Linked DNA regions of Homo sapiens: all the other regions are linked to region 4. Evidence: fine-mapped expression QTL. A gene starts in region 4. Each other region holds a variant in brackets. All regions are shown on one strand. Distances are from middle to middle.

What was found.
Region 1: its variant is fine-mapped to the expression of PLAUR in whole blood (TOPMed, PIP above 0.99).
Region 2: its variant is fine-mapped to the expression of PLAUR in blood mononuclear cells (TOPMed, PIP 0.99).
Region 3: its variant is fine-mapped to the expression of PLAUR in blood mononuclear cells (TOPMed, PIP 0.98).
Region 5: its variant is fine-mapped to the expression of PLAUR in monocytes (Fairfax 2014, PIP 0.95).

Annotation. Positions count from the first base shown.
Region 1 is chr19:43,698,052-43,703,179 of GRCh38, reverse strand. It overlaps the pseudogene LOC105372412. Among named protein-coding and RNA genes, the nearest start is that of IRGC, 15 kb to the left of the region's middle. RefSeq lists enhancers at 1,618-1,677, 1,768-1,817, 1,828-1,877, 2,236-2,736. The variant C/T (reference allele first, on the strand shown) is at 2,034.
Region 2 is chr19:43,743,540-43,748,539 of GRCh38, reverse strand. It overlaps SMG9 (SMG9 nonsense mediated mRNA decay factor), which reads left to right. Exons shown (of 14, transcript NM_019108.4): 3 at 488-562; 4 at 643-907; 5 at 1,001-1,098; 6 at 3,656-3,768. Among named protein-coding and RNA genes, the nearest start is that of SMG9, 8.9 kb to the left of the region's middle. RefSeq lists a silencer at 627-756. The variant A/G (reference allele first, on the strand shown) is at 2,405.
Region 3 is chr19:44,379,051-44,384,178 of GRCh38, reverse strand. ZNF285 (zinc finger protein 285) reads left to right here. Exons shown (of 4, transcript NM_152354.6): 4 at 1-1,881. Among named protein-coding and RNA genes, the nearest start is that of ZNF285, 20 kb to the left of the region's middle. The variant C/T (reference allele first, on the strand shown) is at 2,402.
Region 4 is chr19:43,667,421-43,672,548 of GRCh38, reverse strand. PLAUR (plasminogen activator, urokinase receptor) reads left to right here and starts at 2,380. Exons shown (of 7, transcript NM_002659.4): 1 at 2,380-2,483; 2 at 4,858-4,968. The coding sequence starts at 2,429. It overlaps LOC124904724 (a long non-coding RNA gene), which reads right to left and starts at 3,785. Exons shown (of 3, transcript XR_007067264.1): 1 at 3,366-3,785; 2 at 2,069-2,523. RefSeq lists an enhancer at 2,312-2,611 and silencers at 3,532-3,611, 3,652-3,881.
Region 5 is chr19:43,646,635-43,651,762 of GRCh38, reverse strand. PLAUR (plasminogen activator, urokinase receptor) reads left to right here. Exons shown (of 7, transcript NM_002659.4): 7 at 2,620-3,184. The coding sequence ends at 2,873. Among named protein-coding and RNA genes, the nearest start is that of CADM4, 9.3 kb to the right of the region's middle. The variant T/C (reference allele first, on the strand shown) is at 2,815.

The DNA of each region.
Region 1 (5,128 bases), 31 kb before region 4:
AAGGAAGAAAGAAGTATGAAGGAGAGGAGGGAGAAAGAGAGAGAGGAGGAAAGAAGGGAGAAAGGAAGGAGGGAGAGAGAAAGAGCAAAGGAGGGAGGGTAAAAGCAAAGGAAAGGCCAGGAGCAGTGGCTCACGTTGTAATCCCAGCACTTTGGGAGGCCAAGGCGGGCGGGTCACTTGAGGTCAGGAATTCGAGACAGGCCTAGCCAACAAGGTGAAACCCCGTCTCTACTAAAAATACAAAAATCAGCTGGGCACGGTAATGCGTGCCTGTAATCCCAGCTACTCTGGAGGCTGAGGCAGGAGAATCGCTGGAACCTGGGTGGCGGAGGTTGCAGGGAGCCGAGATCACGCCACCGCACTCCAGCATGGGCAACAGAGCAAGAGACTCCATCTCAAAAAAAAAAAAGCAAAAGAGAGAGGTGAGGAGGGAGGAAGAGGGGAAGGTGTAGGAAAGGAGGAGGCAGGGAAGGGGGAAGGAAGAGAGAGATAATTTGGCAAAATGTGCATAATTTTGGACACTGAGAGATTGATACTGAAGGGTCATTTAATGACTGCTTCCAGCTGCAAACATCTCCTGGGCGCCTGCTATGGGCTCTGGGCTCAGTCACATTTTGGTCCCATCATAGATTGGGGTATCAGTCTGTCATAGATATTATACTATTTTCTCTACTTTTGTGTATATTTGGACATTTTCTTAATGTTTAAGGGGGGGAAATTTTATCTTCTAGAGTCAGACAGATGTGTGTTCAGTCCCAATGTTCTTCATACTAGCAGTCTCTTAGCCTCCTTCAGCCTCAGTTTCTTCCTCTATACAATGTGGATAAATAATAGCACAGTCCTCATGATTAACAACCTGAAGACATGACTATTTCAATTGGTTGAAAGCTTAGGGTGGGCCAAGCCTTGTGCTTAATGTACCTTACAATAACACCTTACAATATGGGAACACAAGGCTCAGAGATGTTATGAAACTTGTCCAAGACTACACTGCAGATAAATTGTGAATCCACACCACAAACCCAGGTCTGTTTGAGTCTAAAGATCTTTTATTTTTTTTCAATTTTTTTATTTTAATTTTTTTTTTTTTCCTGAGACGGAGTCTCACTTTGTCGCCCAGGCTGGAGTGCAGTGGCGCGATCTTGGCTCACTGCAAGCTCCACCTCCCAGGTTCACGCCATTCTCCTGCCTCAGCCTCCCGAGTAGCTGGGACTACAGGTGCCCACCACCACGCCTGGCTAATATTTTTTTTTTTTTGTATTTTTAGTAGAGACGGGGTTTCACCATGTTAGCCAGGATGGTCTTGATCTCCTGACCAGCTGGGACTACAGCTATACCTGTAGTCCACCACCATGCTAGGCTAACTTTTCAATGTTTTGTAGAGATGGGATCTTGCTATATTGCCCAGGCTGGTCTTGAACTCCTGGCCTCAAGCAATCCTCCTACCTCAGCCTCCCAAAATCACACTGTGATTACAGGCATGAACCACTGCGTCTGACCCACATTAACTGTTTCTTACTGCATCTGCCTTGGAGCCTTTGCCTTTCCAGTTCCCTCTGCCTGGAATGTCCTCCTCCCCCACCTCAGACAACTGCATGGCCTTCTCCCTTGCCCCACGTAGGTCTTTACTTCCTCAATTAGGTCTTTACTTACGTCACCTTACTGAGGCTCTTACTCACCATGTATAAGATCATATCTCTTTGGCAGCGTTCCCCATTCTCCTTCCCCGCACTGTTTCCTTCCTAGTACTCACTGATATGTGATGTACGATATGTGATATTTATTTATTATGTGTCTCCTCCACTAAAATACCACTTCCATAAGAGCACAGAATTTTGTCTGTATCGCCAGTGTCTCATTTACAAAAGAATACATAGCTTGTGACTGATAAAGATTTGTTAGATGAATGTTAAATGAATTGTTTCTATTCTTTCGGTTGGGCTTTCTGTTACTTTCAGTTTTTGTTTTTGAGACGGAGTCTCGCTTTGTTGCCCAGGCTGGAGTGCAGTGACGCAATCTCAGCTCACTGCAAC[C/T]TCCGCCTCCCAGGTTCAAGTGATTCTCCTGCCTCAGCTTCCTGAGTGACTGGGAACACAGGCACTCGCCACCATGCCCGGCTAAGTTTTTGTATTTTTAGTAGAGACGGGTTTCGTCCTATTGGCCAGGCTGGTCTCAAACTCCTGACCTCAAGTAATCTGCCGGCCTCGGCCTCCCAAAGTGCTGGGATTACAGGCGGGAGCCACTGCGCCTGGCGGGGGCGGTCTCTTTCAAGCCCCCTAGAGCCACGCCGCCTAATCTGTCTGGTGCATGGCCTGGAGTGATTTCTTAGGTAGCCCTCCCTCCCACTGTCATAGCCCCCAGGCACTGGGATTACAGGCGTGAACCACTGCGCTCAGCCACTTTCAGCAGAAAGCAAATGGTTCCTGGCATTCTGCCTGTGGTGAGCAACCCAGTTTCACTTCTCCGCTCAATCCTCTGAGTTCAGTTCCAGATGCAGCATTTGGTCTTATGCCCACCCTGGCCAGACACTGTTGTCGGTTTGTCCCCTCCAGGTTCACCAGTTGAAGTAACTTAACCTCCCCTGGCCTCAGAGGAGAGAGGACCACATCAGGGCCCTCTTTGAGGCTAAAACTTCAGAAAAAGGAAACTCAAACCACTTGGCATTGTGAGATGTGATTCATTCAGATCTGGTTACAGCTGGGAGATTGGGCCCACACAGAAGAGGGGCTCCTCACCCCACCCATGCCCCCTGCCCCGTCTTGGCCCATGGTGGGGGTGGAGGAGGCTGCTCTGAAAACCTTGGAAGAGGGTGTATCGGATCCTCAAGCCCCGCCTTGGCTGCCCAGGATTTTGCTAGACCCCAAACAGGGAGAACAAAAGAGAAGTTGCTTGTCAATGTGTGGGAGAAGAGACACATCCCTGGTGTCTGGGAGCAGCCGGATATTGGGTATCCCCTCGTTTGAAGAAGGAGGCTTAGTAACTTGAGGAAGAAGAACAGCCCTCTTCTGAGGGAGGAGGTTTGGCCTTGGGGAAGGTGCTAATCTGAGGGGGGAGGTATAGCGCCCCGCCCCAACTTAGTTGAGCAGACGCCTGATCTCAGCAGCAGGTGAGTGGCCTTAGTCTGAGCGGGGAAGACACACCCTAGGCTGATGGAGGCATGGCCTTTGGGACCCTGGTGTGAGGAAAGAGGACTTAGCCTTGAGTAAGCCCTGAGTCTGGAGCAGAAGGTCTGGCTTTGGGAAACGCTAGTCTGAGGGAGGAAGCTCATCCCTGCTTCCTGAGTTTCTCACCAGAGGCTTCCAGGTCTCCGCATTGCCCCAGCAGAGGGGAGCCAGGGCACCATCTAGCGACGTGCCGAACAAGCAGGTGGAGGGGGCCTCCCGGGCGGCGGGGTGGTCCAGGCGGGATTCCTTAGCACAGCGTCGCGGTTGCCAGGACTACCACCAGAACCGGGAGGGAGAGGCGGAGGCCGGGCGCGGCGCCCGAGCGGCAGTGGGACTCTAGGACGGCGCGGCGGTGGGGGCTGCAGTGGCTCGACAGCCAGTGTCTTGGGAGCACAGAGAGCCCGTGGGTCCAGTCCAGGGCGCTGCACAGGTCTCGGGAGCCGCAGCCGCGTACGTTCACGTTCCGGCCGCCTGCCGAGACGGAGACAGGGTGCAAGGAGGGGACGTGGGGGCGCGCGCAGGCAGAAGGCCACCCCCGCGCGCACCCAAGCGCACACGCGCGCGCCTTGCACACGCACAGGGCCCGCGAGCCCCTCGAGTCCATGTCCTTCGTGAAAGCTCATCAGGAATGTTCTTTTCTTTGAGCTGGGAGCTGGTCACGGCTGTCTCTCTCTCGTTGTCACTCTTTCTACCTTACACGTATGTTACAGGTGTGTTTTCACTCGTGTGCAATGTTTGTTTCCTTTTTTAAAAACTTTTTTTAAAAAAATGAGACAGAGTCTCGCTCTGTCACCCAGGCTGGAGTGCAGTGGCACAATCACAGCTCACTGCAGCCTCGACCTCCTGGGCTCTGGTGATCCTCCCACCCCAGCCTCCTGAGTAGCTGCGACTGCAGGCCGTAGCACCAGGCCCAGCTAATTATTTTGAAAATTTTTTGTAGAGATAGGGTCTGCCTCTGTTGCCCAGGCTGGTCTCAAACTTCCAGGCTCAAGCGATCCTGGCCTCCTAGAGAGCTGGGATTACAGGTGTGAGCTACCACACCTGGCCCAGAAAATTTTAAATTACACACGTGTCTTACATTACATTTCTTTCAGAAAGCACTGATATAGTTTAGTGGATTATCTTATTCAATTCTCACAACAGTCTTAGGACTTAGCGACTGTTGTTATTCCCGTTTTGTTGTTGTTTTTTCTTTTTTTTTTTTTGAGACGAGGTTATGAAACTTGTCCAAGACTACACTGCAGATAAATTGTGAATCCACACCACAAACCCAGGTCTGTTTGAGTCCAAAGATCTTTTATTTTTTTCAGTTTTTTAATTTTATTTATTTTTTTTTTCTGAGACGGGATCTCGCTTTGTCGCCCAGGCTGGAGTGCAGTGGCGCCATCTCGGCTCACTGCAAGCTCCGCCTCCCGGGTTCACGCCATTCTCCTTCCTCAGCCTCCTGAGTAGCTGGGGCTACAGGCACCTGCCACCACGCCCGGCCAATTTTTTGTATTTTTAGTAGAGATGGGGTTTCACCATGTTAGCCAGGATGGTCTCGATCTCCTGACCTCGTGATCCGCCCGCCTTGGCCTCCCAAAGTGCTGGGATTACAGGTGTGAGCCACCACGTCCGGCCCTCCCCTGTTTTTTAAAGAACTTGTTGCATACCAAGTTATCCCCTTTTACAGATGGAGAAATTGAGGCACAGAGAGGCAAAGTCACCTGGTCAAGGTCACCCAGCTCAGGTGGTGGATTCAGCATTTGAACCCAGGCAGCCTGGCCCTAGAGTCCTGTTCTTATGCCCTTTACTCTGTCACCTCCCTCATGAGTTCACTTTGTCCTCACAACGCCCTTCAAGGTGTGTGTCTACCATCCCCAATTACCAGAAGAGAAAACAGAGGCTCAAAGAGATAAAGTCACTTGCCTTGAGCTACACAGAGTAAAGGGTGGAGGGGAGACTCCAAACTCAAGCACACCAGTATC
Region 2 (5,000 bases), 76 kb before region 4:
AGGTGCCATGCTAGACACTTGATGAGTTCTCTCTCCTTTCATCCTCATCATAGTCTGTGAGGAAGGAATTCCCATACCCACTCACAGATGGGAAAATGAGGCATAAGTGAAGGTGGCGAGGGTGGTTCCTTATTCAAGTTCACACAGCCAACACGAGGCGGGATCAGGTTTGCACCCAGACCTGTCTAGCTCCTAGTTCCTTTCCTCCTGGGCTTGTTGCCTCGCAGAGGCAGCTGAGCAGAATGCTTGAGGATTTGGTTCTGCAGCCAGGCTGCCTGGGCTTTGTGACTTTGGGCAATCTGCTTAACCTTTCTAGGCTTCATTTTCTTCATCTGTAAAGTGGGGGTAATAATAGTATCTATCTCACAGGGCTGTTGGTAGGATCAAGGTAGTTAATATATTTCGGCATTTAGAATAGTTCATGGTACATAAAGATCTGGAATGTCCAGGAGAGCCATTCATGAGTAACTGCCCTCCCTCACCACAGGATGCCAGCGAAGAGACAAGCACTTCCGTCATGCAGAAAACCCCCATCATCCTCTCAAAACCTCCAGCAGAGCGGGTGAGCAGAGAAGGAGGGAGGAGGGGGAGCCGTTAGGGAAGGGATTGCCCCCATTGATGGGATTTTTTTTACCTCCGTAGTCAAAACAGCCACCACCTCCAACAGCCCCTGCTGCCCCGCCTGCTCCAGCCCCTCTGGAGAAGCCCATCGTTCTCATGAAGCCACGGGAGGAGGGGAAGGGGCCTGTGGCCGTGACAGGTGCCTCTACCCCTGAGGGCACCGCCCCACCACCCCCTGCAGCCCCTGCGCCACCCAAGGGGGAGAAGGAGGGGCAGAGACCCACACAGCCTGTGTACCAGATCCAGAACCGGGGCATGGGCACTGCCGCACCAGCAGCCATGGACCGTGAGTTGGGGCTGGGCAGTACCAGGTTGGGAACTGGCGTCTCCTCACAGATCCTCACTGCATCCTCTGTCTCCTGCTTTCTCCAATCTCCAGCTGTCGTGGGTCAGGCCAAACTACTGCCCCCAGAGCGCATGAAGCACAGCATCAAGTTGGTGGATGACCAGATGAATTGGTGTGACAGTGCCATCGAGGTACCGAGGGGTCCTGCCCTGCCTGAGCTTCCGCACATCCTGCATCCTCTGATCTTCCACCTCTCTGTAGGCAACACCAGACTGGAGGGTTTTGAGGCAACTTACAGCAGTGAGAGGGGGTGGTATCAGAACATTCTCACCTAACCAGAGCGGAATTTCAACTAGCTCGGCTGTGCTTGCTAGTTGGTAAAATACAGAACTCCTTTGGTACCGATTGGTAAAGAAGTACTCTCACTACCACCCCAGGACCCCTGGGATCTCCCGTGCCATCCACAGCAGGGGAGTCTTTTGGACCCTGCTCCAGTACCCTTCTTATTTGGTTGAAACCCTTGCTGGTGGCTCATGCCTGTAATCCCAGCACTTTGGGAGGCCAAGGTAGGAGAATCACCTAAGCCCAGGAGTTCAAGACCAGCCTGGGCAACATAGGAATACTCCATTTCTACCAAAAATTTAAAAATTAGCCAGGCATGGTGGCAGGAGGCATCCAGGCCACTCAGGAGGCTGAGGTAAGAGGATCACTTGACTCCAGGAGGTCAAGGCTGCAGAGAGCTGTGATCATGACATTGCACTCCAACCTCAACAACAGAGTGAGACCCTGTCTCAGTAAAAAAAAAAAAAAAAAGAACAAGAAGCCCACGCTGTCTCAGTGTCAACTGTTTTGAATGTCACTCCCCCAAAGTGACCCCCATCCATCCCACCACCCCCTGCTCTAGTTCAGACCTCACATTCCTAGATCATCATACATAACACCAGTCTCCCAGATGTTGTGTCCCTTCTTCTGCTTTTTCTCCCCTAGACCTGTCACACCCCTGCTCAGATTGTCCCAGAGGTGTCACCTCTCCTACCCAGCAGCCTGGACTTATTAGCACAGCCTCAAGTCCATTTATTGCCTTGCCCCTGCCACTTCTGTGTCCACTCTCACATTGGAATTAACTGGGGAGCTTTAAAAAAACAAAAAACAGAACAACAACAAAAAACCAAACCCTACCCTTCAGCGCTATTAAGGAAAACTTTCTGCAGTGATGAAGATCATATATATTTGAACTATCCGTCCAGTATGGTAGCCGCTATCCCCAGATGTGGCTTTAGAGCACTTGAAATGTGGCTAGTACAACCAAACAGAATTTTTAATGTTGTTTAAGCTTACTAATTTAAATAGCCATGTATGATCAATGCCTACTGATTGAACAGGGCATCCATAGATATTCTGCTTTAATGTGTTAAAGCACGTTAAATCCTGATTGGGCCCAGGATTTGCTTTATTTATTTAGGAGACGGTCTCGCTCTGTTGCCTAGGCTGGAGTGC[A/G]GTGGCACCATCTCGGCTCACTGCAACCTCCACCTCCCGGGTTCAAGCAGTTCTCCAGCCTCAGCTTCCCAGGTAGCTGGGACCACAAGTGTGCGACATCACGCGCAGATAGTTGTTTTTTTTTTTGTTTTTTTGTGATGGAATTTCGCTCCTGTTGCCCAGGCTGGAGTGCAATGGCACGATCTCGGCTCACCGCAACCCCCGCCTCCCGGGTTCAAGCAATTCTCCTGCCTCAGCCTTCCGAGTAGCTGGGATTACAGGCATGTACCACCACACCCAACTAATTTTGTATTTTTAGTAGAGATGGGGTTTCTCCATGTTGGTCAGGCTGGTCTGTAACTCCCGACCTCAGGTGATCCGCCTGCCTCGGCCTCCCAAAGTGCTGGGATTAAAGGTGTGAGCCACTGCACCCAGCCGGGTTTTGTATTTTTGGTAGAGACGGAGTTTCACCATGTTGGCCAGGCTGGTCTTGAACTCCTGGCCTCAAGCGATCCTCCCACCTTGGCCTCCTAAAGTGCTGGGATTACAGGCGTGGGCCACAACACCTGGCCTATAGGATTCGCTTTTAAAAAACAAAACAAAACAAAATTTTAAGGTAATTCTAAGGAGCAGCAGCCACAGTTCAGAACGTAGCTGTTTTCCTTGAGGAGTGTCTCTTACACCCCCTGGTGGTGAAAGTCAGCAGAGCTGGTGGCCCAGAGTTGGTCTCAGTTAATTTCCAGAGGGGCTCTTAAATCCCACAGACAACAGCATATGAATGTAAAAAAAAACAAAAAAACACACACACAGACGAAAGCCTGGGTGGCTCCTGTTTGCACACCACTCCCTTTCATGTGCTTTCCCAGGTTTGCCAGGAATCTGTGCCAGTAGCCCTCAGTCGCCGAGTCCTATCTTCTCCAACCTGCCCTTCTGTTCCTGTGACTCTCACTTTCACTTCTCCAAGATCAGACTTCCCTTTTTCCCGCTGTGTTCAGCCACACTGACTTCCTTTTAGCTTCTTGACCATGCTAGGCTCTTTTCTACTTCAGAGTTCTCACAGACACTGTTGTTTGTGTCTAAAACATTTCACATAATCCTACCATGACACGGAACAGAGGCCCTATGCCTAGTTGAAGGGGTTGGGACTATAGGAGTTTCTCTTCATATATGATAAGGCAGGTGGGGGAGCCACAAGGGTCTCTGGAGTCCCCCCCTCATTCCAGCTCCAGCAGCTGACAGACTTGTCAGAGTCATTTATGTATTTTCCCACAGTACCTGTTGGATCAGACTGATGTGTTGGTGGTTGGTGTCCTGGGCCTCCAGGGGACAGGCAAGTCCATGGTCATGTCATTGTTGTCAGCCAACACTCCAGAGGAGGACCAGAGGTGAGGGGCTATCAGATAGGGTGCAGGAGGGAGGTGGGCACCCACTGGGAGCAGGGGCAAGGTGGGCTTGGGTGTTTCAAGTGGTGTTACCAAAGGACTTTGGAAAGTTGCTTTTCTTCTGTAGACCTCAGTGTCTTCATGAGATGAAGATGATAATGGGCTGGACTAAATCTGTGTAGCTCCAAGGCATCCAATCCTGTTCCTCCCTCCCTCCCTCCCTTCCTGCCTGGCCTCAGGAAATGGTACAGGTCCTAGACAAGAAGTGGGATGATGTAGTTGTTAAGGTTTTGGATTTGGGCCCACCTCAGGCTCAGCCCTGCAACATAACTGGTTGACCTTGGGCAGGTCACTTCATTTCCCGTATCCCCTGTCCAGGTAGATTTTTGGAGAATAAAATAAGATCAAGAAGGCAAAAGTTAATGAGCACCTGGCATAGAGCAAGTATCACAGAATGGTAGCTGATACGATCTGAGAAATAGAGTGGGGAAAGAGATCTGGAGACAGAGAGTGGTTTCTGTACCAGCCTCAGTCCTACTGTGTCACCTTGGGAAAATGGCTCTGCTTCTCCAGGCTGGGGAGGATCAGACATGAGGATTCTCTGGCCTGAACAACATTCTTGAGTAAGGATGGAATGTGATTATGAAGATAAAGCATAAGGGCACAGGAGCAGGTTTTGGGGAGGGGAGAACTTGAGAAACAGGTCCCGAAACTGGGGGCAGAGAAGGAAAGGGAAAAATGTAGGAATTTGGGAATGGGGGAGATACACATCTCATTAAGGGAGAATCAAAATGGGGAATGAGAATGGATAGTAGCCACTGGGGTGGTGAAGAACAGAGACATGTTGAAGTTACCTAAAAATACAGGGATCTGTTTTTTTGTAAAGCAGGTGATACTACCCTGGCCTCCATGGATGAGCGTCAGGAGTCCATTAATCCCTTAACAGTATATGCAGAATTTTATTTATTCATTTATTTTTGAGACAGTGTCCTGTTCTTTCACCCAGGCTCAAGTGCAATGGCACGATCATAGCCCACTGCATCCTCTACCTCCCAGGCTCAAGTGATCTTCCCACTTCAGCCTCCCAAGTAGCTGGGACTACAGGGGCATGCCACCACACCAGCTGGTTTTTAACTTTTTTGGTAGAGATGGCGTCTTCCTCTGTTGCCCAGGCTGGTCTCAAACTCTTGGGCTCAAGCAATCCTCCCGCTTTGGCCTCTCAAAGTGCTGGGATT
Region 3 (5,128 bases), 710 kb before region 4:
TGGCTCCATCAACAATGATCTAGACCTATAAAAATGTCCACATGTTATTGTCCATGTCCACCACATACTCCAGTACTCCTACTTGCAAACATTAAGTTAGAGAAAAAATCCGGGATACACATTATCCTAGGAAGCTTTTGGGGTTTAGAATGGGTGCAACATTCCTTCATGACAGAATCAGCCCTCAGTGTTGGTGGAGGTGTCCCAGGCAATCCTCTAGTTTGGCCGGGAGCAGCGCTTGCATATCACATTAAGCTTTTTAAATATATGATGCTAACAGGAATGTCTCCCTACTTCACAAAATTGTTTGCTTTTCCTCTTGTAGCAAAGTAGCATGGAAAAAGCAGAAATTAGTCTAGCTCCCAATCAGTGGGAGCCAATCTCATTTACAAATGAAGATGCAGAGATCCTAAATAAATATGAGCATGTCAAATCCAATGATTTGATAAAAGCGTAACAGACTCGCTCATGTATAATTTATCCTAAATATGCTTATCAGCTTCTGCCTCATAACACACACAAGAACTGAGTAGCTCTAAATACATATTTATTTAGCTCATGATGTGTGAGCTGGCAAGTTCAACTGGGCTTAGCTGGGCAGTTCTGGTGTGGGACATGCTAGATTATCTTAACTGGGCTTTGTACATGCATCTGCAGTCAGCTGATGGTTCATCTGGGCCTGGCTGTTTTATGATGGTCATAGATGAGACAACGAAGTTCTCTCTGTCATCATGGTCTCTCACCCTCCAGAAGACCAATCGAGGGTTGGTCCCATAGTGCCAGGGTTTCAAGGGCAAAAGCTGTGATCTCTTAAGGCCTCATCAGGGAACAGGCTCAATGATACTTTCACCACATTTTAATGATTAAAGCAAGTCACAACACTGGCCCAGATTCATGGGGTGAGATTAAGACAAAATAAAAAATGTTGAGACATAATCATTGGAAGGAAAAGGAAGATACTATTTTTATGCTAGAGAATAATGTTATTTACTTATAAAATTCAAATCCACCTGTAAAATTTGACCAATTGAAGGCTGTTTTAAAATTATCGGGTCAACAAATTGGTTTCACACGAAATTGGCATGTGAAAATTCATAGCATTACTATGTAAGAGTCTTTTATAAAATGTAGCCAAAATGTTTCATTCACAATAACAATTGTGTGCAATGACCAGAATTGTCCAAAGGTAATTCTGGGAGTTCCCTTTGGGATGCCTAGGTGAGGAGCTATCTGGGGCCTCAGACTCCCACATTCTTCAGTGGGAAGGGCTTTACATGAACTCAACTTCCCAGCGGCTTTCTCTTCCTGATGGGAGGTGTTAGAACCTGGCTTTCTCATGCAACTTCTGTGAAGCTCTGACAACTAAAGCCAGATTGTCTGCTTTAGTTAAGTAGTCCAGATTACCTGCATAGTCAATTTGTTCCCTCACCAACATGGATGCCTTCACAATTGCTCTTTAAGAAGGATAAAAACATAGCGGTGAGGTGTGGTCTATTTCCTGCTTCACCCAGGCCCTGGTGCTTCTTCAAGTGGTATGAGAAATTGTGGTCCTGTGCCTTCTCTTCCAGACCCTTAGCTTACATGTTTTCCCTATAAAACTTAGTCCTAATCCCAGCACTTTGGGAGGCCAAGGTGGCTGAATCACAAGATCAGGAGTTTGAGACCAGCCTGGCCAACATAGTGAAACCCCGTCTCTACTAAAAATACACAAAATTAGCTGGGCATAGTGGCAGGCACCTGTAATCCCAGCTACTCAGGAGGCTGAGGCAGGAGAATCGCTTGAGCACAGGAGGTGGAGGTTGCAATGAGCCAAGATCGCACCACTGCACTCCAGCCCAGGCGACAGGGCAAGACTCTGTCTCAAAAAAAAAAAAAAAAAAAAAAAAGTCCCTTATGTGTGATGATAAAATTTGATGAAGAGCAACACTGGTGGACTTACATTACCAGAGATCAACATTTATTATAAATTTTCTATAATTAATACAGTGTGGTATTCGCTCAGGAGAGAAAAAATAGATCAATGGAAAAGAATTGGGAGCCCAAAAACAGATCCACATGTATACAGTGAGTTAGTTTATTAGCCTTGAAATATGTTGGAGAAATAATAGTCATTTTAATAACTGATGCTGGGTTATCAGTTATACTGATAACTACTACTTAACACTACTTAACACTAGCTCTTCATACAACTACAGGCAATAAATACAAATAGCATGCAGCTGGCAGACTGGGCCCAGTGGCTATGCCTCCACTAGACTGCCCATAGAAGCATAATAACAGCTACCGAAGATGTCTGATCTGTCTTGTCTTTTTTTTCAGGTATAATTTACATAAAGTGCAGACTTTAACTACATTTAAGTTTTAACAAATGTACATATCCTTGTAAATAATGCCCATTCAA[C/T]ATGTTAAACATTTTCTTTACCCCAAAATTTCCCTTGTGCCCCTTTCCCTTCATTTCTTTCCAAAAAAGGATATAATCACTGTTTTGCTTTCTATCACCATATGTTGGTTTTGCCTATTCTTGAACTTTATATAAATGAAATCATACTGTAATATACTCTTGCGTTTGGCTTTTTTTTCATTCAACATGGTTTTCTAAATTTGTAATTTATAATAAATAGAGTATTGCATATTTTATTATTGTTTATAAATTGTGTTCTGAAAACATTCTATATTAGTAAAATTTATAGTAAACTTATATAATGTACGTATGTTTCTTTCTGGAGAGCCATTTATTAAACATTTATTAGCATACCACTCACAAAGGAGATGTAACCCCAGAATTGGCCTTTTTCTTCTGTAGTCAACTGGCTTTGAAGTAGAATGTAACATTAGTTATTATTCCTCATTCCCCACTCATTCTCTGTATCTGCTTCTCTTATTTTTTTTCTTTTATTTTTCTGCAGACACTATGGTTACTTAAGTATCTACTTCTCTTTTTCTGCATGTCTTTGAGTAGAGACACTGGTCACCTTTGTTCCCCACTGTCTTTTCAAAGGTGCGTACGCGTTAGGGAACAAAAATATAGTGTCTTCCTCTGGAGCAGCAAATTTGTTTATGGACCACTCCAGTGAAGACAGTGTCTCCCTCTGGGGTGAAGGGCAGTGGTTTTGTTCCCACTGCCTATCATAGAAGATTCAGGTTTCCTAAGCTTAGAGTTCTATTCCTACAACGCAGCCCGCTAGGTATGCAAGCAGCACCTGGCCTTTCACGTCACTCTATGGGATTAGAGTGGTAAAAACCATTGCAAAGGATGACACTCTGGCTACTGCTGTGGTTGTGACTAATAAAGTCCTTTGTCTCAGAGCCAGGAGTCTCTTGTCTTGTGCCAGCATCTGTGAGACTGTCAGGCTAACTTGTGAGCTTGTAAATTGGTTCCTTTCAGATCCTTGGTTTTGATGGAAATAAATGTCTCTTAATCTTAGATGCAAACTAGAGCTACCTGGAATGCTTTCGGCTTTTTACAATTTTTTTCTGGTGAAATATACATAACATGAAATTTACCATCTTAACCATTTTTAAGTATATAGCTCAGTAGTGTTAAGTACATTTACATTGTTGTAAAACCAATCTCCAAAACTCATTTTATCTTGCAAAACTAAAACTCTATCCCATTCAACTCTATCCCATTCAACAGCAACCCTCAATTTTCCCCTCCTCCCAGCCACTGGCAGCCACTATACTTTGTGTCTCTATGCATTTGACTTCTCTGAGTCACGTAAATGGAATCATACACTATTTGTCCTTTTTTTTTTCTTTTTCTTTTTCTTTTTCTTTTTTTTTTTTTTTTGAGACAGAGTCTCTCTCTGTCACCCAGGCTGGAGTGCAGTGGTGAGATCTCGGCTCACTGCAAGCTCTGCCTCCAGGGTTTACGCCATCCTCCTGCTTCAGCCTCCCGAGTAGCTGGGACTACAGGCGCATGCCGCCACGCCCGGCTAATTTTTTGTATTTTTAGTAGAGACAGGGTTTCACCATGTTAGCCAGGATGGTCTCGATCTCCTGACCTTGTGATCCGCCCGCCTCGACCCCCCAGAGTGCCGGGATTACAGGCGTGAGCCACCATGACCAGCCCAGTATTTGTCTTTTTGTGACTGGCTTATTTAACTTACCATAATGTCCTTAAGGTTTATTTGTGTTGTCGAATGTGTCAGAATTTTCTTCCTTTGTACACTTGGGTTTCTTCCACTTTTTGGCTATTGTGAATAATGCTGTTATGAACATAGGAGTACAAATATCTCTTCAAGACCTTGCTTTCAATTCTTTTGGACACATACCCAGAAGTGGAATTGCTGGATCATATGGTAATTGTATTTTCAATTTTTTCAGGATCTGCCATTCTGTTTTCTATAGAAGCTGCCACCATTTAACATAATGTTTTTAAGTTCATTTATATTATTATGCTTATCAGTCTTCTTTTTATGTTCAGAGTAATCAGGAAATTACCACAGTTTGCTCATTCTTATGTTGGTGAACATTTGTTTCCAGGTTTTGGAAATTTTGGATAAAGCTACTAAGAATATTCTTGTATTAGCCTTTTTGCAGACATATGCTTTGATTTCTCTTGGGTAAATACCTAGGAGTGGAATTGCTGTCATAGGCTAAGTGTATGTTATCTTTATGAAGAATTGCCTGTCCTTGTCTATTAACATAAAGAATGAGGTACTTTATTGTTCACTTAAAATCTTTATGTGGTTGGGCTGTGTGTGGTGGCACATACCTGTCACATACCTGTAGTCCCAGTTACTGGGGAGGCAGAAGGATCACTTGAGGGCAGGAGTTTGAGGCTATTGGATGCTACAATCGTGACTGTGAATAGCCACTGCACTCTAGACTGGGCAACTTAGCTAAAAAAATTTATGTGGTTAAAATATCAATGTGTTTATGAAATTTTTGTATAATGATTTTTTAAAAGAAAACTTTCCCATACTCCCAGGCACTAATTATTTTCAAAACATGAAGACTATGTTTTAAATGGTGTCAGGCACAAATCTAATTTTAATTTTTTCCAATTGGATAGTCAAGGCTTTCAACATTTATTGATGAGTCCCTTTTTTATTTACTGATCTTAAAGGTCACATTTATACTACACTAGGTATATCCATTCCTGGAGTCTCCTATCTTTTATGTT
Region 4 (5,128 bases):
CCCCTACGACTCTCTTCCTCTCCTAATCTGTTCCAGCCACACTGACATCTCTTCTGTTCCTAGAATCTCATCAGGCTTCCACCTCAAGGCCTTTGCACTGGTTGTTCCTGCTCCTTGGAAAGGTTCCCTGCCCATCTGCCCTACTTCTTCCCTCACTGCATTCAGCCTCTGCTTGAATGCCACTTGCTCAGGGAACCCCTCCTGGATCACCCACCTAAAACAGCTCACACCTCATTTGCACCCAGATACTTCCTTCAGCCTGCTTTGTTTTCTCCAGTTTGCTTATCCCTCTCAGACAGTGAAAGATTAGATAACACATATCTGCTCCCCACTGTCAACACAACAAAAGGTGGGAACTTTGCTTTGCGTCCTGCTGTGCCCCTAGCTCCTGGACCAGTGCCCAGCACAAAGTAGGTCCTTGGTAGATGTTAAAGGAATGTGTTGAGCCCTCCATTTCGGCCAGCAGCTATTCCAGGCATTGCACCTACATTAAATTGCTCTGTTTAGTTAGATGCATCCTAAGACGGGGAGACAATTTTATCTTTAGTATTTTATTTTACTTAAAAAAAAAAAAAACTTGGCCAGGTGCAGTGGCTCATGCCTGTAATCCCAGCACTTTGGAAGGACAAGGCAGGTGGATCACCTGAGGTCAGGAGTTCGAGACCACCCTGACCAACATGGTGAAACCCCATCTCTACTAAAAATACAAAAATTAGCCGGGTGTGCTGGCGTGCCCCTGTAATCCCAGTTACTCAGGAGGCTGAGGCAGGAGAATTGCATGAACCCAGGAGGCGGAGATTGCAGTGGCCGAGATTGCACCACTGCACTCTAGCCTGGGTGACAGAGTGAGACTTCGTCTCAATAAATAAATAAATAAATAATAAAAAGAAAGAAAAAACTTATTATAAGCCTTTTCAAACCCACAGAAAAGGAGACAGAATGGCATAATATGCCCTTATATACTGATTACCTTTATATAATTGATACAACCATTTGGCTATTTTGCCTTTATTTTCTACTCAAGTATTTATTTATTTATTATTTTTTTGAGACAGGGTCTCGCTCTGTTGCCCAGGTTGGAGTGCAGTGGTGCAATCATAGCTCACTGCAGCTTCCAGTTCCCAGGTTCAAGCGGTCCTCCCACCTTAGCCTCCCAACTACCTAGGACTACAAGTACGGGCCACTGCACCCAGCTAATTTTATTTTATTTTTAATTTCTTTTGGAAAGATGAGGGCTCTTTATGTTTCCCAAGCTGATCTTGAACTCCTGGCCCCAAGTGATCCTCCTGCCTTGGCTTCCCAAAGCATTGGTGTTACAGGCATGAGCCACCTCATCTGACCTCTTCTAAAATATTATAAAATAAATACAGACATCAAAATGAAAACAAAAGAAAAAGAAAAAACAAAACAAAAATCCCCAAAACAACAACAACAAAAAATGCAGACATCAATAACATTCACCACTAAATACTCTAGTAAGCATCTGCAAAAACAAACAAACAAACAAAAACCAGAATCCCACCTAAGCATACAGCCATTGTCGTAACAGTGATATCTACTTTTTTGGCTGAAGTGTCTTTTTTTTTTTTTTTTTTTTTTTCTGTGAGAAGGAGTCTTGTTCTGTTGCCAGGCTGGAGTGCAGTGGCACGATCTCGGCTCACTGCAACCCAACCTCCGCCTCCCGGGTTCAAGCGATTCTCCTGCCTCAGCCTCCTAAGTAACACACACACGCCACTACGCCCGGCTAATTTTTGTATTTTTAGTAGAGACGGGGTTTCACCATTAAGTGTTTTAATGTAGGTGCAATGCCTGGAATAGCTGCTGGCCAAAATGGAGGGCTCAACACATTCCTTTAACATTTACCAAGGACCTACTTCGTGCTGGGCACTGGTCCAGGAGCTGGGGGCACAGCGGGAAGCAAAGCAAGGGTTAAGTGTTTTAAGTGTTTAAGAGATGCATATTTCAGGATGCATCTCTAGATAAGGACATTTTCCAAAATACCAGTATCCCTCCTGACAAAACTAACAAAAATCCTGTTAGCCAAATAATCAGCCACATTCATATTTACCGTCAAAGTTTTTATCCTCATTTTACAGCAGTGGAGAGCGATTGCCCCGGGTCCCACGTTAGGAAGAGAGAGAACTGGGATTTGCACCCAGGCAATCTGGGGACAGAGCTGTGATCACAACTCCATGAGTCAGGGCCGAGCCAGCCCCTTCACCACCAGCCGGCCGCGCCCCGGGAAGGGAAGTTTGTGGCGGAGGAGGTTCGTACGGGAGGAGGGGGAGGCGCCCACGCATCTGGGGCTGACTCGCTCTTTCGCAAAACGTCTGGGAGGAGTCCCTGGGGCCACAAAACTGCCTCCTTCCTGAGGCCAGAAGGAGAGAAGACGTGCAGGGACCCCGCGCACAGGAGCTGCCCTCGCGACATGGGTCACCCGCCGCTGCTGCCGCTGCTGCTGCTGCTCCACACCTGCGTCCCAGGTAGGGGCTGGGTCCCGAACGCCTGCGCCTGGAACAGGGTCTAATTGAGGGGGTTGGGGGTTGTCAGAGGATGAGTTGGAGGAATGCGGTTCAGTCCTCAGCATCCTCCCTAATCAAATAATAGTAATTCTCGTGCTTTGTGCAACGCCACGCGGCGCAGTACCTGGCACTCAGTAGCTAAGGAAATATTAGTGGAGCAAAGGCATTTAGCTTTACATAATTTAGTGAGTGCTTTTTTTTTTTTTTTTTTTTTTTTGACAGAGTCTCACTCTGTCGCCCAGGCTGGAGTGCAGTGGCGCGATCTCGGCTCACTGCAACCTCTGCCGCCCGGGTTCAAGCGATTCTCCTGCCTCAGCCTCCTGGGTAGCTGGGATTACAGGCGCCTGCCATCGCGCCCGGCTAATTTCTGTATTTTTAGTGGAGACCGGGTTTCACTCTGTTAGCCAGGATGGTCTCAATCTCCTGACCTCAGATGATCCACCTGCCTCGGCCTCCCAAACTGCTGGGATTACAGGCGTGAGCCACCGCGCCCGGCCCAAGTGTTCTTTTTTTAAATGGAGTTCTTCGAAGCCTCTTCCTTGCAATTTCAAACTAGGCGATGGGACTTTATTAATTTCGTTTCGCAGAGGAAACTAGGGCACAGAGAGGTTAGATAACTGGCCTAAAATCACACAGCCAGTGCTTGAATACGCAGGATCTGACCCTGCAGCGCCCCCCAGCGCTCTCCACGCTGCTGGGTCTCCCCCTCTGAGAAACGGGGGGACAGGACCCCCTTTTACAAAAGGCCCAAAGGGAGGCTGACTGAGCGGCGCAGAGCCAGTGCTGGAGACCCGGGACTGTCCCTCAGGACCTTTCCCTCTCACTGAGGCGACTCTCACTTACTTCCCCGGAAAATGTGGGGGGCTCTGGGTCGAGGAATTCGAGAAGGAACTGAGTCAGGGCGGGTGGCCACAGGGTGTTGGGGCCGCGATGAATAACCCGGAAAGCGCTCGAGACCGCGGGAGGCCGGGAATGAGTAACAGCTCCGGGATACTCCGAACGCGCAGCTGGAAAGGGATGTCCGGGAAGGCCCGGAGGTCGGGGACCGGGCCTAGGGACTGGGCTGCAATCTCGGGGCGGAGCCTGGGGCGGGGAGAGAGTGTCGGGGAGGAGCCAGAGGGCGGGGCTGGAACCTCAAGGAAGAGCTACGGGAGAGGTTACAGACCGAGGAAGAGCTAGGAGCGGGGCTAGAACCTCGAGGCGGAGCCAGAGGGCGGGGTTATAACCTCGAGGCGTAACCAGAGGGCGGAGTTATAACCTCGGGAGGAGCTAGAAGGTGGGACTAGACTCTTGAGGGGCAGGATTATAACCTCGGGGAGGAGCTAGAGGGCGGGGCTGGAACCTCAAGGAGGGGCTAGGGGCGGGGTTATAAGCTTGGGGAGGAGCTACGGGGCTGGGCTAGGACCTCAAGGGGCCAAGGGGCGGGGGTTACGACCTCGGGGAGGAGCTACAGGGTGGGGCTGAAACCTCAAGAAGGGACTGGGGCGGAGTTATGACCTCAGGGGAAAACTAGGGGCGGGGAGAGCTAAAGGGCGAAGTTAGAATCTCAAGGAGGAGCTAGAGGGAGGGACTAAAGCCTCGAGGAGGAGCTAGGGGCGGGGTTATGGCATCGGGGAGGAGCTAGGGGGCGGGAAGATAAGGTCAGGAAGAGCTAAAGGGCGGGGCTAGAACCTCGACGATGAGTCTGGAGCGGGGCCAAAACCTAGTTGGAGAGCTGGAGGGCGGAGACAGAACTTCGCGGGAAACTAGAGTATCTAACAATAGAAACTCCGGAGGGCTGATGGGGCCGGGCCTAGAATTTGGGAATAAATTAGTGGGCCGGGAGAGGCTCTGGAGCCGGGTAGAACCAGGGGGAGTGAGTGGAGGGATAGTTCCATTAGGGCACTGGGAGTGACGGTATAACATAAAGATCGACGCGGGTGGGGCAAGGCTAGAACGTCCCCAGCAGAACTGGAGAGGCGTAATCGACCGAGGGCCGGTGCGGTGAGAAAGACCTAATAGGAGCAGGAATAGAACGTACTGATAGAGAGGGCGGGGATACGACTGTCAGGATATACGCCTCACGAGGACAGAATGAAAGGAAAAACGGGCCAAGGCAGGACTTTGGGAAAGGACTTGTGGGCAGGGATAGAACGTTCAGTTAGTGGGGTGGAGGTAGAACGTGGACAACGGACAGACTGGAAGTACCGCCGGCCGGAACCCAGCAGAACATGGACACGAATCTGAATGGACGGGGCCTGGAGACTTGGTGTTGGTATTGGGACATGCAGGGGTGAGCGGGGGTCTTGGAGCTAAGCGTAGTTAACCTCTCCTCTCCTCTCCCTCCTTCCCCCAGCCTCTTGGGGCCTGCGGTGCATGCAGTGTAAGACCAACGGGGATTGCCGTGTGGAAGAGTGCGCCCTGGGACAGGACCTCTGCAGGACCACGATCGTGCGCTTGTGGGAAGGTGAGCTTCCCCCCAACCCACACACCCCTCCAGCGCAGCATGGAACGCGAGTGATTGAGAAACCTTCCTCACCAGTAACTGGGACATGCAAACTAAAAACAAACAAACAAGGAGAGCCCATTTCACACCCACCAGATTGGCAAGCATTTAAAAATCTGAC
Region 5 (5,128 bases), 21 kb after region 4:
TTCTTCATGCTTTTAAAAATTATTTTTGGCCAGGTGTGGTGGCTCACGCCTGTAATTGCAACACCTTGGGAGGGTGAGGAGGAGAACCACTTGAGGTCAGGAGTATGAGAGCAAGCCTGGCCACCATGGTGAAACCCTGTCTCTACAAAAAATTACAAAAATTAGCTGGGTGTGGTGGCGTGCACCTATAACCCCAGCTACTCAGGGGGCTGAGGCACGAGAATCACTTGAACCCAGGAGGAGGAGGTTGCAGTGAGTGGGGATCACCCCACTGCACTCCAGCCTGGATGACAGAGGGAGACTTTGTCTCAAAAAAAAAAAAAAACTCTTTATTGTTTATATCAGTGATTTCTATAGATAAATGCCACATTAAAATTAAAACTGAGAACCAGGAGTGGTGGCTCACGCCTGTAATCCTAGCACTTTGGGAGGCCGAGGTGGGTAGATCACCTGAGGTCGGGAGTTCAAGACCAGCCTGACCAACATGGTGAAACCCCATCTCTACTAAAAATACAAATTAGTCGGGCATGGTGGCACATGCCTATAATCCCAGCTACTCGGGAGGCTGAGGCAGGAGAATCACTTGAACCTGGGAGGCAGAGGTTGCGGTGAGCCAAGATTGTGCCATTGCACTCCAGCCTGGGCAACAAGAGTGAAACTCCGTCCCAAAAAATAAAATAAAATAAAATTAAATTAAAATTAAAACTGAGAAATCTTTTTTTTTTTTTTTTGAAATGGAGTCTTGCTCTGTCGCCAGGCTAGAGTGCAGTGGCATGGTCTCAGCTCACTGCAACCTCCCCCTCCTGGGTTCAAGCAATCCTCCTGCCTCAGCTTCCTGCATAGCTGGGATTACAGGCATGAGCCACCATGCCCAGCTTATTTTTGTAATTTTAGTAGAGACGGGGTTTCACCATGTTGGCCAGGATGGTCTCGATCTCCTGACCTCATGATCTGCCTGCCTCGGCCTCCCAAAGTGCTGGGATTACAGATGTGAGCCACCGTGCCCAGCCAAAACTGAGAAATCTTTAAAGATTTATTTATGAATTCATCTTATAACAATAAAAACTCATTACACATTAAGATAAATAACATTTTAATGAAAAATAAGTATAGTTTCCAAAGAAAAAATGTAATGATAGCCAGGCATGGTGGCTCATGCCTATAATCCCAATACTTTGGGAGGCCAAGGTGGGCGGGTCACTTAAGCCTAGGGATTTGAGACCAGCCTGGGCAACATAGCAAGATCCTGTCTCTACAGAAAATACAAAAGTTAGCTGGGCATGGTGGTGCATGCCTGTAGTCCCAGCTGCTTGGGAGGCTGAGGTGGGAGGGTCACTTGAGCCTGGGAGGTGGAGGTTGCAGTGAACGGAGATTGCACCACTGCACTGCGGCCTGGGCAACAGAGCGAGACCCTGTCTTAAAAAAACAAACAAAGAAACAACAAAAAAAAAACCAGCCAGGCGCGGTGGCTCACGCCTGTAATACCAGCACTTTGGGAGGCCAAGGCGGGCAGATCACAAGGTCAGGAGTTCGAGACCAGCCTGGCCAATATGGTGAAACCCCGTCTCTACTAGAAATACAAAAATTAGCTGGGCATGGTGGTCGCGCCTGTAGTCCCAGCTACTTGGGAGGCTGAGGCAGAAGAATTGCTTGAACCCGGGAGGCAGAGGTTGCAGTGAGCCGAGATCGTGCCACTGCACTCCAGCCTGGGTGACAGAGTGAGACTCCATCTCAAAAAAAAAAACAAAAAAAAAGCGTAATGAGAAAACTGGCATTATTTTGCTGTGTTGCACATCTCTTTAATGTCCAGCTTAATAGAAGACAGCTGGGTCCTCATGGAAGCTTCTGCTTTCAGTCTCTTGCAATATCACATGTCCTGGAGTTTTTGGAAAAGCCCATTGTACACTTATGAGAGTGAAAAAGCCATGTGAAATCACAGATCTCCTGAAAGGGTCTCTGGGGTCCCTGAGCCACACTTTAAGAACCGCTGCTCGCTTCCTTTCTTTCTTTTTTTTTCTTTCCTTTTCTTTCTCTGTCTCTCTTTCCCTTTCTTTCTTTCTTTCTTCCTTCCTTCCTCCCTTCCTTCCTTCTTTCCCTTCTCCTTCCTTCCTTCCTCCCTCTCTCTCTCTTTCTTTCTTTTCTTTCCCTTCTTCCCTTCCTCCCTTCCTTCTTCCCTCCCTCCCTCCCTCCCTTCCTTCCTTTCTTTCTTTTTATTTGTTTTTTGAAACAGGGTCTCACTCTGTTACCCAGGCTGGAGTGCAGTGGCGTGATCATAACTCACCACAGCCTCCATCTCCTGAGCTCAAGTGATCCTCTCATCTCAGCCTCCCAAGTAGCTGGGACTACAGCTGTTTTTTTCTTTTTTATGTTTGTAGAAACAGAGTTTTGCTATGTTGTCCAGGCTGGTCTGGAACTCCTGGGCTCAAGCTATCCTCTCTCCTTGGCTTCCCAAGGTGTTGAGATTACAGGCATGAGCCACCACACCTGGCCCTGAGAACTGCTGCTTTCTCTAGGTGGTAGTGAAGGTGGCACCCACTGCAAGGTGGCAGGTCACCTACTGGAGAATTCCAGTCCTGGGCCCAGGAGCTGGAAGTCTCACTCCGTCTTCTCTTTCCTCAGAACCGAAAAACCAAAGCTATATGGTAAGAGGCTGTGCAACCGCCTCAATGTGCCAACATGCCCACCTGGGTGACGCCTTCAGCATGAACCACATTGATGTCTCCTGCTGTACTAAAAGTGGCTGTAACCACCCAGACCTGGATGTCCAGTACCGCAGTGGGGCTGCTCCTCAGCCTGGCCCTGCCCATCTCAGCC[T/C]CACCATCACCCTGCTAATGACTGCCAGACTGTGGGGAGGCACTCTCCTCTGGACCTAAACCTGAAATCCCCCTCTCTGCCCTGGCTGGATCCGGGGGACCCCTTTGCCCTTCCCTCGGCTCCCAGCCCTACAGACTTGCTGTGTGACCTCAGGCCAGTGTGCCGACCTCTCTGGGCCTCAGTTTTCCCAGCTATGAAAACAGCTATCTCACAAAGTTGTGTGAAGCAGAAGAGAAAAGCTGGAGGAAGGCCGTGGGCCAATGGGAGAGCTCTTGTTATTATTAATATTGTTGCCGCTGTTGTGTTGTTGTTATTAATTAATATTCATATTATTTATTTTATACTTACATAAAGATTTTGTACCAGTGGACAAGGCCAGGTATGCCCTTCTTTGTAGTGTCTATCTTTGGGAGGATAAATGGTGGGGGACACCTTTTCACAGGCTCCTGGAATCAGGGGTCATGTTTGAGGCCCCTGCCTAGGTTGGAAGTCCTCCTGGGGGCTGCCTCCACATCTATTTCTGGACTCCAAATGCTGACAGAGCAGGAGCACTGCCATCTTGAACAAACACCACCATTCTTAGTTCCTCTTGATTAAAAATCGGCTAAATCCGGACGTGGTGGCGGGTGCCTGTAGTCCCAGCTATTCGGGAGGCTGAGGCAGGAGAATGGCGTCAATCCGGGAGGTGGAGCTTGCAGTGAGCCGAGATTGCACCACTGCACTCCAGCCTGGGTGACAGAGCAAGACTCTGTCTCAAAAAAAAATCAGCTAAATCCAGCCCCAAAACATCAGCCTAATGGCTACCATCAGCATAACCAGAAACATTCCAACCCTAAGATAAACCCCTCTCTGACCAGAAACATGCCAACCCCCAGATAGCCTCCCTTCCGACCAGAGACTTTCCAACCCCACAATAAACTTTTCCTCACATGAAAACATTCCGAACCTAGATAAGCACCCCCTTCCAAAACTCTTAAATATCCTTAGTCTGTAAAAAAAAAAAAAAAAAAGGGCTCTCTAACCTAACTCAGCCAAAAGCCCCCCTCAGGTTGGTTTTCTCTAAAATAAACCTGTCCTTCACCGTCAAGCCACATTTCATGTTTCTTTCCTTTTCCTTTTTCTTTTCTTTTCTTTTCTTTTTTTGAGATGGAGTTTCACTCTTGTTGCCCAGGCTGGAGTGCAATGACACAATCTCAGCTCACCACAACCTCCACCTCCTAGTTCAAGGGATTCTCCTGCCTCAGCCTCCCAAGTAGCTGGGATTACAGGCATGCACCACCACACCCGGCTAATTTTGTATTTTTAGTAGAGACAGGGTTTCTCCATGTTGTTCAGGCTGGTCTCAAACTCCCAACCTCAGGTGATCTGCCCACCTTGGCCTCCCAAAGTGCTAGGATTACAGGCATGAGCCACCGTGCCTGGCCTCCTCTTTCTTTAATTCTTACAAATGCAAGCTTCCAGATCACACACTGAACACTAACCTTCTAGTCTTCTCCTAAACTTCAAAGGTTGCAACTATTTTGTTGTTCTAAGGAGACATCCCCACATTTCCCAGCATGCTTTGGGAAAGGAGACGGATAGAAGATAACCTGATGGCCAGAACTCCCTGCATGCACTGCAGTGAGGAATAAGGACAGGAGTGCACTTCCCCTGATGTGCTGGGGACCGGGGATAAAGGCTGGGCTCTATTTCCCGGGATGCCTCAGGACTGTCAGAAAAAGAGACAGAACTACCATTTCAATGGCACTCTAGGAGCACAATATTGAAAAATTCATGTTCTTCTCATCATTTGCTAAGGCAACCCATGGAGACAAAAATTACATTCCCCATCAAATCTTGTGGCTAATGAAGAAAAAATAAGATATCTTCGGCTGGCTGTGGTGGTTCACGCCTGTAATCCCAGCACTTTGGGAGGCCGAGGTGGGCAGATCACTTGAGGCAGGAGTTTGAGACCAGCCTGGCCAATTTGGCAAAACCCCGTCTCTACTAAAATTACAAAAATTAACCGGGTAAGGTGGTGGGTGCCTGTAACTCCAGCTACTCGGAAGGCTGAGGCAGGAGAATCGCTTGAACCCAGGAGGAGGAGGTTGTAGTGAGCCAAGATCACACCACTGCATGACACAGTGAGACTATCCCCAAAAAAAAAAAAAAAAAAAAAAAGACATCTTCCATGGTATTTGGGGGCAGGTGAGGGACAAGGTTCTTGTTTAGGGCTTTCTCTAATGACATATCACCACCTGTCACTGTAGTGGCTTAAAGAAGTGAGGTCTGTACTTCTGCCTCTTGAATATGAGTGACTCTGTGACTGCTTTGA